Linked DNA regions of Homo sapiens. The protein of the gene in region 2 interacts with the protein of the main gene of each other region in a biochemical or structural test. Each region holds a gene or a part of one and is shown on either strand. Other genes may lie near its edges.

The links. Proteins that work in one complex are often made in the same cells at the same time.
Region 1: the proteins of TLE1 (region 2) and ESRRG form a complex in vitro, tested with the Homo sapiens proteins (one study listed by BioGRID).
Region 3: the proteins of TLE1 (region 2) and HHEX form a complex in vitro, tested with the Homo sapiens proteins (one study listed by BioGRID).

The regions. Positions count from the first base shown.
Region 1 is NC_000001.11:216,713,430-216,716,929, reverse strand, and holds part of ESRRG (estrogen-related receptor gamma), read left to right. Parts: intron 1-1,680; exon of another isoform or gene 1,681-1,856; intron 1,857-2,295; exon of another isoform or gene 2,296-2,414; intron 2,415-3,500. UniProt on the Homo sapiens protein: Orphan receptor that acts as a transcription activator in the absence of bound ligand. Binds specifically to an estrogen response element and activates reporter genes controlled by estrogen response elements.
Region 2 is NC_000009.12:81,613,048-81,616,547, reverse strand, and holds part of TLE1 (transducin-like enhancer protein 1), read left to right. Parts: intron 1-413; coding exon 414-566; intron 567-3,026; coding exon 3,027-3,171; intron 3,172-3,500. UniProt on the Homo sapiens protein: Transcriptional corepressor that binds to a number of transcription factors. Inhibits NF-kappa-B-regulated gene expression. Inhibits the transcriptional activation mediated by FOXA2, and by CTNNB1 and TCF family members in Wnt signaling.
Region 3 is NC_000010.11:92,692,955-92,696,147, reverse strand, and holds the end of HHEX (hematopoietically-expressed homeobox protein HHEX), read right to left. Parts: intron 1,602-3,193; coding exon 1,380-1,601; 3' UTR 501-1,379; downstream 1-500. UniProt on the Homo sapiens protein: Recognizes the DNA sequence 5'-ATTAA-3'. Transcriptional repressor. Activator of WNT-mediated transcription in conjunction with CTNNB1.

The sequences.
Region 1 (3,500 bases), on a different chromosome or scaffold from region 2:
TCAGTTAAAGTCCATTTCAGTATACTGGCAAAGATCTATATGTGCATTTGAATGTAGCTATAAACCACGCAACACTAACAATTAGAAATACAACCTATGGCTATATGGAATTCTTTCAAACAATATAGAAAAGGAAAACACTTGGTTTTGGCATTTAAAAAATTTTAAATACCTATTAAATTGCCAAAACTTACAGGGAGCCTACTTCAGATTAGATTAAATTCTAAAAGAAGAACTGAAAAGTACATTTATATTTTAATTATAAAAAACAGTCTTTGTCATATATATTCCTCTGTGACTTCTCATTTTTCTTTGAGTGAAACAAAATTTCATATATACTTTTCATCATTTTGGTTGGAAGTACACATTATGTGTAATATGCTTTGGCAGGACTTACCTAGCCAAAGAAAACAAATTAATATTGGGCATACTGAGGGCTGTCAGGCATATCACAGACATGTCAATTTAACTTTGCTTCATTATACACCTTTTCTGCAAACAGTTGGCTAAGATGGTACTAAATAAAAGGGAAGCTACCAATAAATTCTCATATCAGATTGATGGCTAGTATAAATGTAATGAAAAAACAGCTTGCTTGCTTACTTATCTTTAAAAATGAACTGTAGGAATACAGATAGCATAGATAGCAATAAGTTTCCAAGAAAAAAATAAATTAGGTTCATTCAAATTTTTCTACTACCTTGAAAGTAAAATAGGTTTAGAAAGACAAAAGTCTCTGAAGTGGTGAACCTCAGTGGCTCTTATTTATGAAGTAAATAAAAACTTGAAGAAGTGGAGAATCCAAAGGAACACGGACAATCCACCTTTATCAGGGGACACCTCTTTTTGTTGCACTTTGCATATGTTTTCTGGAAAACAAAAAAATCTTACGCTTTCTTTTTGTATGGCATATTCAATATGCAAAAACAAAAGAAAATTAAAATATAAATTAAGAACTTATGTACAGAAAATAGGCAGAAGCACACTAAATTCTTTTTTTCCATGATCACAACAATACCTTTGTAAATGATAATTCCTTTTTCATCTACTCTAGAAAGATTTTACTCATTTTTCATGGCTTTTGAGAATTTGAACAAAGGATTCATTAAAGAAATATGTATTTTTTTCATACTCACAATGTGAGTTAAAATATCTTAAAAGGATACTTTTCAAGGCAGTTATTATGTAACAATATTTATAAGAACTTATGTTGCTTTGAAAATAATAGTAAATGCATATTAGTCATATATCCAGAACTGCATCCAAAATTAACCAAAATAACAGGTCATATAAAAAATTATAGACTGAGGTACTCATTAAAGAGAAAAAAAATAAACTGTGAGGTTGTTCAATTGATTGCCCTTTGCCCTCCATAATTCCAAATTATCCTAGTACATTAACTTCTCCAAAAATGTAAGATGGGCATGTTAAATTGTATTCATTTTCACATAAATAAAAGAATATTCTGATAATTTTTAATTTCTTTTCAGCCATTAATCCATTAAAACAGATCAGATATTTTGAGGAGGAATATCATACCCGTAACCAACTGTTCATGACCAAAGAAAGGGAAAGATGTATATGGTTGGTGAGAACCATGTCTTTTTCCTATGAGAAAGTGACTGTATACAGTTGGTGCTGGGTCCTATGAAATGACGGAAACATCCCTTTTATCCATAGACTTGAATGAGACCTGCCTCATCAGTCATGGGATCATAGTGTCACAGATGGAAAAGCAACTATCAGCTGAATTGTACTGAACTACACACTTGGCTAATTCATCTTATTGCTCTACACATCTAAAGGAAGGCTCATTCTGTTCTTGGAGTCTAGACAGCATCAGGAGTTGGGCTCAGGTGGGAGCATGTGGCCGCCTTTTTCTGTTCTCTCGTAGTCATTCAGCAAAGGGAGGTGAGGAACAAATGGACAATTTATGCACAGAAGCTCAGGCAGAGATTCTTTCCTAGGGTCAGGAATTTGTTGTTACTCAGTCATTCAAGTAGATTTCCGATTTCTCTTATGCTCTAGAAATGTCATTGTTATCTTTCATGCTCCAAAGTACTACCCGTAAATGATTAGGTGTGTCTTTCAATTCGTATGAGCCATGACCTAGTTTAAGCATTTTTTAATAGATAGAAATGGAGAACAGATCATCTATTTACATTAATGTGAATGATGATTCTTTTTTCATGTCTTTATATTGAACTATTCAGTTGGTTAAGTCTGAAGAATAAGACAAATAATAAGAGGTTAAAAACTCAAATTGTATTTTTTTATTTCTTTATTTTCTTATAGTGAACAAAACTTTAATGTCTAGAGCATTTATGAGGGTTTTAATGATTGGAAAATCTATCCTGAGAATGTGGTCACCATATGTGACAGCCTTGCTTTCTATCTTGTCTTCAGTTTCTGGGGTAAGTTCGGTGATATTGTCTATTGTCTTCCTTTGCTTACATTATAGAACTTCTCTGCTGCCACATTGAGATAACCTGAAGTGTGGGGGGAATGCCTGCTAAGTTCTAAAACACTTTCCTAAACACCTTCCCTTCCTCTATCCCGGCAGTATTTTCCTTTACAATTTCTGTTTCTATTCATCTGTTTTATTAAAGGGTCATTTACTTTGGTAAAAGGTAAGTGCATGATATTCACCCATATTTGCATACAGAGTACACCTGATTTTCCCTCTGAATTCCAAAGAGATTGCCTTCAACTTTTTATATTTGTTTTTCTTTTTGTTTCTGTTTGTAGTGCATTCTAGTTGAGTGCTTTTATAGTGTTTTCTTGATTGTTGTCAGTTTGGGATACTGGAGGCTGACATTTTTGCTAAGTTAATGTTACAGCAGAAAAACCTATGGTAAACTGGAATCTGGCTATAGTGCATAGAAGATACAACTTATGTTTGATTGTGTGTAAATACAGTTAGTTAGTTGGGGGTTTATCAGATAGCTTGGCAGAAAGAGAGAGGAGCAGTACAAACTGTTTTCAGTTAACTGTGCTGTTCATACACCTGATAAGACTGAGAGAGCTTTTCGAAATGCTGATAGGCTTTGAATAAGAAAAGAATAATCACTTCTACTGGCACCAGCTTATCAGGAATGAAGTAAAATGCCAACACTGTTACATTAGCAAAAGTAAATGTTTTAGACACTCTGTGCCTTTTTTCATTCAAGTTAAATAGGAGGGGTGCTTTTGAGTGTGCTGTTATGAATAGAGGGATTTATTACCTTGATGAAATTACAGGTGAATATGTTGATAAAAGAAACTTCAGCATCAACAGCAGCTTCTTTGATAAGCAGGTGCGTCTCTGCTGTACATTCTCTGGAGAAATTAAGTACTCCTTTCTCCACTCCAATTCTATTAAACATCATTTCTGATGTTAGAAGATGCAGTTATGCCCTATGTCAATCCAGTCTCCCTCTTTTTTCAGCAGATGGGTTACAGGTATTTGAAACTTAGCTGATCAGACTTGTAAAATGCTAGTGTGCTCTGGTTAAATAAGT
Region 2 (3,500 bases):
GGGGACCTCTTGCAACTTCTTACATTAAGAAGTTAATGGTTGCTCATGTATGGAGCAATAATGGTCTAACTGACATAAAGTTTTATTTCCTTTAAAAAAAGATATTTCTCTAGACATTTTGAATGCCTAAGTTGGATGTTTGGCTCCCCTTTCCTTCCAGTGCCCTCTAGGCAAAGTTCTTAAGCATGAGGCACAAAGAGGGATATGACTGCGGGGTTTTTTTTTTATGGCATGTTTGCAGGTATGTTTGCCGACACCATATTGCTCATTTATAACATGGTGTTGGTCACCTTGTACAACCCCAACCCGAAGGACTTTCAGCTCTGTCCTTAAATTTAGAGAATGAGTGTGGAAAGGGAAAAGTCTGTCTGTTACAAGCTAAATCACGAAAACTTTTGATTATGCTTGTTGAGGACCCTTCTTCTCCGCGAGCAAGCCCTGCCCACTCGCCCCGGGAAAATGGAATCGACAAAAATCGCCTGCTAAAGAAGGATGCTTCTAGCAGTCCAGCTTCCACGGCCTCCTCGGCAAGTTCCACTTCTTTGAAATCCAAAGAAATGAGCTTGGTAGGTAAAGAAAACTGACACTTGCCTGTTTGGCAGTGTATTTTTCATTGTGGACTGGAGGACTCTGAAGTATTGGAAATGTGGGGGTTTTGCTGCTTGAGGGTTGTATTTTTAAGAGTTTAATAGTGAAACTCATCCTTCTGTTCTTTGTCACCATTCAGGGTTTACTTTTTCCCCTCAGTCATCTCTTTTCGGCCATGATTAGAGGGTGTACACGCATCTGTGTTCATTGCCTTCTTCTTCTTCTTCTTCTTTTTTTTTTTTTTTTTGAGACGGAGTCTCACTCCATCATCCAGGCTAGAGTGCAGTGGTGCAGTCTCAGCTCACTGCAGCCTCTGCCTCCTGGGTTCAAGCGATTCTCCTGCCTCTGCCCCCTGAGTAGCTGGGATTACAGGCGCGCGCGACCATGCCCAGCTAATTTTTTTTTTTTTTTTTTTGTATTTTTAGTAGAGATGGGGTTTTGCCATGTTTGTCAGGCTGGTCTTGAACTCCTGACCTCTTTGATCCACCCGCCTCAGCCTCCCAAAGTGTTGGGATTACAAGCCCAGCCTCATTGCCGTCTTACTTGGGGGATATGTTCTTGCCACACAGCTCTCTGAAACTTCCCAGTTGACAAATGGTTCAAACTTCTGAGATTCTTTTTTTTTTTTTCTGAGACGGAGTCTCACTCTGTTGCCCAGGCTGGAGTGCAGTGGCGTGATCTCGGCACACTGCAACCTCCACCTCCCAGGTTCAAACAATTCTCCTGCCTCAGCCTCCCCAGTAGCTGGGATTACAGGCACTCACCACCACGCCTGGTACCACCATACATTAGAGAGGGTGTACACGCATCCATGTTCATTGCCTTCTTCTTCTTCTTCTTTTTTTTTTTTTTTTTTTTTTTTTTTTTTTTTTTTTTTTGAGATGGAGTCTCACTCTGTCACCCAGGCTGGAGTGCAGTGGTGCAATCTTGGCTTATTACAGGGTTTCATGTTGGCCATGCTGGTCTTGAACTCCTGACCTCAGGCAATCTGCCTGCCTTGGCCTCCCAAAGTGCTGGGATTACAGGTGTGAGCCACCGCACCTGGCCTCAAACTTCCGAGATTCTTAAGTCTTCATTTTCTTAGGCTGGTCATTTACCTGGTAGACTGATCCTTAATATCGGGGCATGTCATAGAGCATGCCCCGATATTATGGAGCTCGTCAGATCAGTGATGCACAAAGGAGGCCCCAGGGGAAGCCAGGAACTGGTGCATCAGAACCCACTCATGTGGTCACTCATTCAATCAAACTTTGTAGACTGCATCATCTTTTAACAATAACATTTCATAACAACCCTTCAGTTAATCCTTACCTGGTCCCGGTAGGCATTATCCCATTTTACCGGTTGGGAGGGATGAATAACTTAACAAGGCTACACAGCCGTGGCTCATGATCCAAGGTCAGAAAGAGCTCTCTTTAGCCCGTGCTCTTTGCCACGCTGTAGTGGTTCTTGGACTGTGTTGTAAAGCACATGAAAGGTTGAAAGGCCAGAGAAGGTGCCCTGTAACCCTGTTACTGTCTGGTCTCCGAAAGGCCCCTTGCTGGTGTTCAGTCTCTGATCTGCACTGGTGGGTCCACTTTGGTTATGTAGGCAAGTGGGCAGTGACTCTTAACTCCAAAGTGTTGTTCTTTTTAGGCATATTGGTAAGGTTAGCCCTGGGGCTTTTGTCTCTGAGATACTGGCCCCACTCTCTCTCACCATTTGTCTCAATCCCAGGGCTACCTAAAAAGGAGACTTGAAAAGGGGTCTTCTGGCCTGGCGCGGTGGCTCAGGCCTGTAATCCCAGCACTTTGGGAGGCCAAGGCGGGTGGATCACGAGGTCAGGAGATCGAGACCATCCTGGCTAACATGGTGAAACCCCGTCTCCACTAAAAATACAAAAAAATTAGCTGGGCATGGTGGCGGGCACCTGTAGTCCCAGCTACTCAGGAGGCAGAGGCAGGAGAATGGCGTGAACCCGGGAGGCGGAGCTTGTAGTAGGCCGAGATTGCGCCACTGCACTCCAGCTTGGGTGACAGAGTGAGACTCCATCTCAAAAAAAAAAAAAAAAAAAGAAAAGAAAAGGGGTCTTCCTTGGACTTGGCGGCCAGGACATGTGTTTCTGAGTGCCTGGGAAATATTCTCTGGGTGGTCATCTTTCTAACTTGGCGTAGACCCAAAGTCCACAAGGCTGATGGAAAATACTTTTAAAATAAAATCTGCGGAGGAAGAAGTGTGATCATGTTCTGTGTCTCTAGCTCGAGTTTTAATTCTGGCAGGAAGAGGAAAGGTCAACATTTCTCGCTCACAAGTTAATGCTGTCAACATTGTGTGGATTTATGAAAATTGGCTGAGGGAGTAGCTAGAAGGTGCCCAGTGTCCCAGCTGCTGTTGTGATAAATTGTGTAATATGGCTTGGATTAAAAATAATACTCATTTAATTTGTTTAATGACACCAGCATGAAAAAGCCAGCACGCCTGTTCTGAAATCCAGCACACCAACGCCTCGGAGCGACATGCCAACGCCGGGCACCAGCGCCACTCCAGGCCTCCGTCCAGGTCTCGGCAAGCCTCCAGCCATAGACCCCCTCGTTAACCAAGCGGGTACAGCATCGCCTCTTGTTGTGCTTTGTTTGGTTTCTCCCATTCCCAGCTTGATTTGTTGTCTGTTAATGTTGTGACGCAATTGCCCTACAAATATGAAATGTACGTAGGGCCACCCTCCTTCCTATCTCTGAAAAAGCCATGATAAGAAACAGATGTTTGTCCTGGGGTTTCAGCAGCTGCACTCTGTTCAGTCTCCAACTGTTTACATTCAGCTTTTCTTTTTTTCTTGAGACGAAGTCTCGCTCTTGTCCCCCCAGGCTGGAATGCAATGGCGTGATCTCAGCTCACTGCAACCTCTGCCTCCTGGGCTTTGAGACGAAAGTCTT
Region 3 (3,193 bases), on a different chromosome or scaffold from region 2:
GTTCTCAGCGCAAACCACCTCCCCGCTCCCCTCGGCCAGGGCCCCCCATCCCCCCACTCGGACTTCCCCACCCCGGGCCCCGCCGCGCGGAGCGGGTTCCCGAGCCCCGGCCGCCGAGGGATGACGCGGTGTTGACTCAGCCGGTCAAGGACGGCGAGGGCCAGCCCGGCTGCCGAGGAGAATCGATGGGGTCCGGACGGCCCCGCGCTTCACGGCGCAGCGGGCCTGGGCCTCGGCTCTTCCCGTCGCCTGGCGTGCCCGGGACTCGAACCCATCAGGCTCAGAATCCGCCGGCAGGAGCAGAGCCCCAAGGCAAACGGCCCGGGAGAGGCCCCAACCCACGTTCCAGGCACCCACCCGCGGTCCTGGGACTCGGAACGAGAGCCCCAGCAAGATCCAGCCCCAGTCACTTCCTGTCCCCAGAGCCCAGCACCGCGCCAAGCACCCAGGAGGTCAAGAAAAGGTGTGCAGACTTTTTAAAATCAAAGAATTAGACTTGCAACGAGGTCAGTCGTCCCACGGACGGCTTTATTTTATAGTCAAGTTACTTATTAAAAAAAAAACACATTTTGGCCATTTTTTTTACAGTGAACAATTCTATATACACATTATAAACATTGTTTGATATAAAACAGTATCTACAATCTACTTACATTTAATTAACCTGTGACTTCTAGTTCATCTGCGATTAACTTTAGTCAGGTCAGTTTCTCTGCTTGAATTGGGAGGTACTATCCCCTTAACACCTTGGTCAAACAGGTACTAAGTGATAGTGCAAAACAAGCATTTAAGATTCTCATCAACCATATCTCTGACAAAAAGAACACACATCTCTGAGACAAGAGCTCTGAAATGTTTTTGGATTTGAGACAGCAGTATAAGAATGTCATATAAAAGTAAAGAATGTTTTCCTTTTAAAATACTCCAAGGCTGCCTGAAATGTAGGCACCTCTGGATTTGGGGTACCCCTTTGCCTTTCCATTAAGTGGGAGATAAACAGATTACAGAAAAGTCGTTCAAGAAGGTCCTATTAAAACCTTTAAAGCTATAACTTAAAAATTTAACAAAAAGTTCAAAATTAATTTTTTATAAATAGTGAAAACCACTAACTGTTTTTTTAAAGGGGGAAGAATTTAATCACTATAATGTCACTTTATCAAAACAACCTAAGAGCAGTACATAAACTATTTGTTAAGTCAAAATTAAGGTCTCCATGTAGGTTTGTTAATTGAGCAGTGCACCAAATATTTTTAGGTTTCCAGAATACCAGAGAATTGATTCCCTTTCTTATATAGCCTTCCAGTTCTTCTATGAAGATTTTCTGTAGCAAAACATTATTCCTAAATCCAGTTTTCTGAACATGCCAATGCCAGTGGTCATCATCCAGCATTAAAATAGCTTTTATCGCCCTCAATGTCCACTTCCTGATCAGAATCCTCTGAAATCTCTGATTCAAGGTCTTCCTGGGAGGCAGGGGAGGGCGAACATTGAGAGCTATCCAAAGAAGCACCTTTATTCTGTTCACTGGGCAAATCTTGCCTCTGATCACAGGAACTGTCCAAACTTTCCAGTTCTTCTTTTTTATTGCTTTGAGGGTTCTCCTGAATAAAGGAAATGAAAATGGAGATTGGAAGGATCATAAAATATGGATAGGTGAGAGGAATAAATCAAAATGTCTCTTCATCCTATTCCATCTTTTAATTTTTAGTTTACTGAGTGTTTTCAGTTTATAATCTTATTCAGGAGATACATACTTGTGCTTTTTGCTCACTTTGGAAGAAAAGTTTCTGTCATATCAAAGATTATATGCTTAAAAGATGAGAACCAGTCATGAACATAAGGGCAGATACATTATACCAATTGAACACAAATTCTGGTTACTTAACACCAGCCCAGACCCATGGTTTCAATATTCTCAAAAGTTTAAGGGGGAAAGAAAATCAGATCACTACAGATACACCTTAACTTCATTCTTTAAATATTTAAACCTTGCCAATTAACAGTCTTTCAGACATTTTAAAAATAAGAATGCTAACTGGTGAATTAAGAATAAAGTTTCAATTATTAGACTGGATCTTTTTTCATTCATTTTCTGGAGTAAATTTATAAACATCTACATGTGTAAATGTTTAACAAGTTACAAAATCATGGCAAAGAAAAAAAATGTGGATCTGGAAGAATGCTGCCAACTGAGAAGGTAGACAATTAGCTACAATTTACTTAAAATCTGGGGCAAATTTCTGGGAAATATCCCCATATTACATAGAAACCACTATTTTTAAGGTCTCTGGTAAACTAGAGTCAAGCCTTTGACCAAGAACTATTAAGTATATAAGCTAGTGAATTTTTAATCCTATACTTGTCTAAAATGCATATAAATACTACATAGAAATATTACAACATCTATTTGTTATATAGTTGCAAGCCTTATAGTCTCAACAAATAGATGCACACGGTCAGAAATTGAGAGTGGATCTGCAAATATTTAAATCACATTACAGTAATGAAGTTATGGGAATTTTATTTTCTATTTCAAAATATTCTTTGGGACACTTTCTTTTTAATGAAAAAGTAATGATCAATAAATTTTAAAATCCACTTTGCTTTAAATTTCTCCACTCATTGTTTCAAAGTATTTATTATAAACCGTATATACAATGACAAGTGAACAATTCAGCAATTATCAGATAACTTTGGAGAGTATATCCAGATTAGGACATCAAAAATGAATGTTTAGCTTTAAGTCAATAGACCTTCTTTTAAAAACTAAATTAGCCTTTACTTTTTATCACATATTGCGAAACAAGGTCACTGGAAGAAAGACTGTCAGAAAGTTTAAGCTACTTTCCAAACAGGCTTGAATATTTTCTTACAAGTTTTATATTTCATTTTAAGAGCTGGCATTAGATAGAAAATAATTTTTAAACTCCCTGACATTTAATTCTTCTAAAAAACAGTGCAAACAAGACTTAAAGGTGTTTGTTTCTTTATATTTACCCTTGAGTTCTGCCTGGTTTTATTATGGCTGTGTAAATAAAAGAAACAATTTTCTCCCAAAGATAACTGCTTAAGTCATTTACTGTCAATTACTTTATCTTTCCTGCGTTAATTAGATAAACAACATATGGGATTTATAAAACAATTAGCTGGGAGTTTTACTAGCCAGTGTGTGAAAACCCAAGCATAATTGATA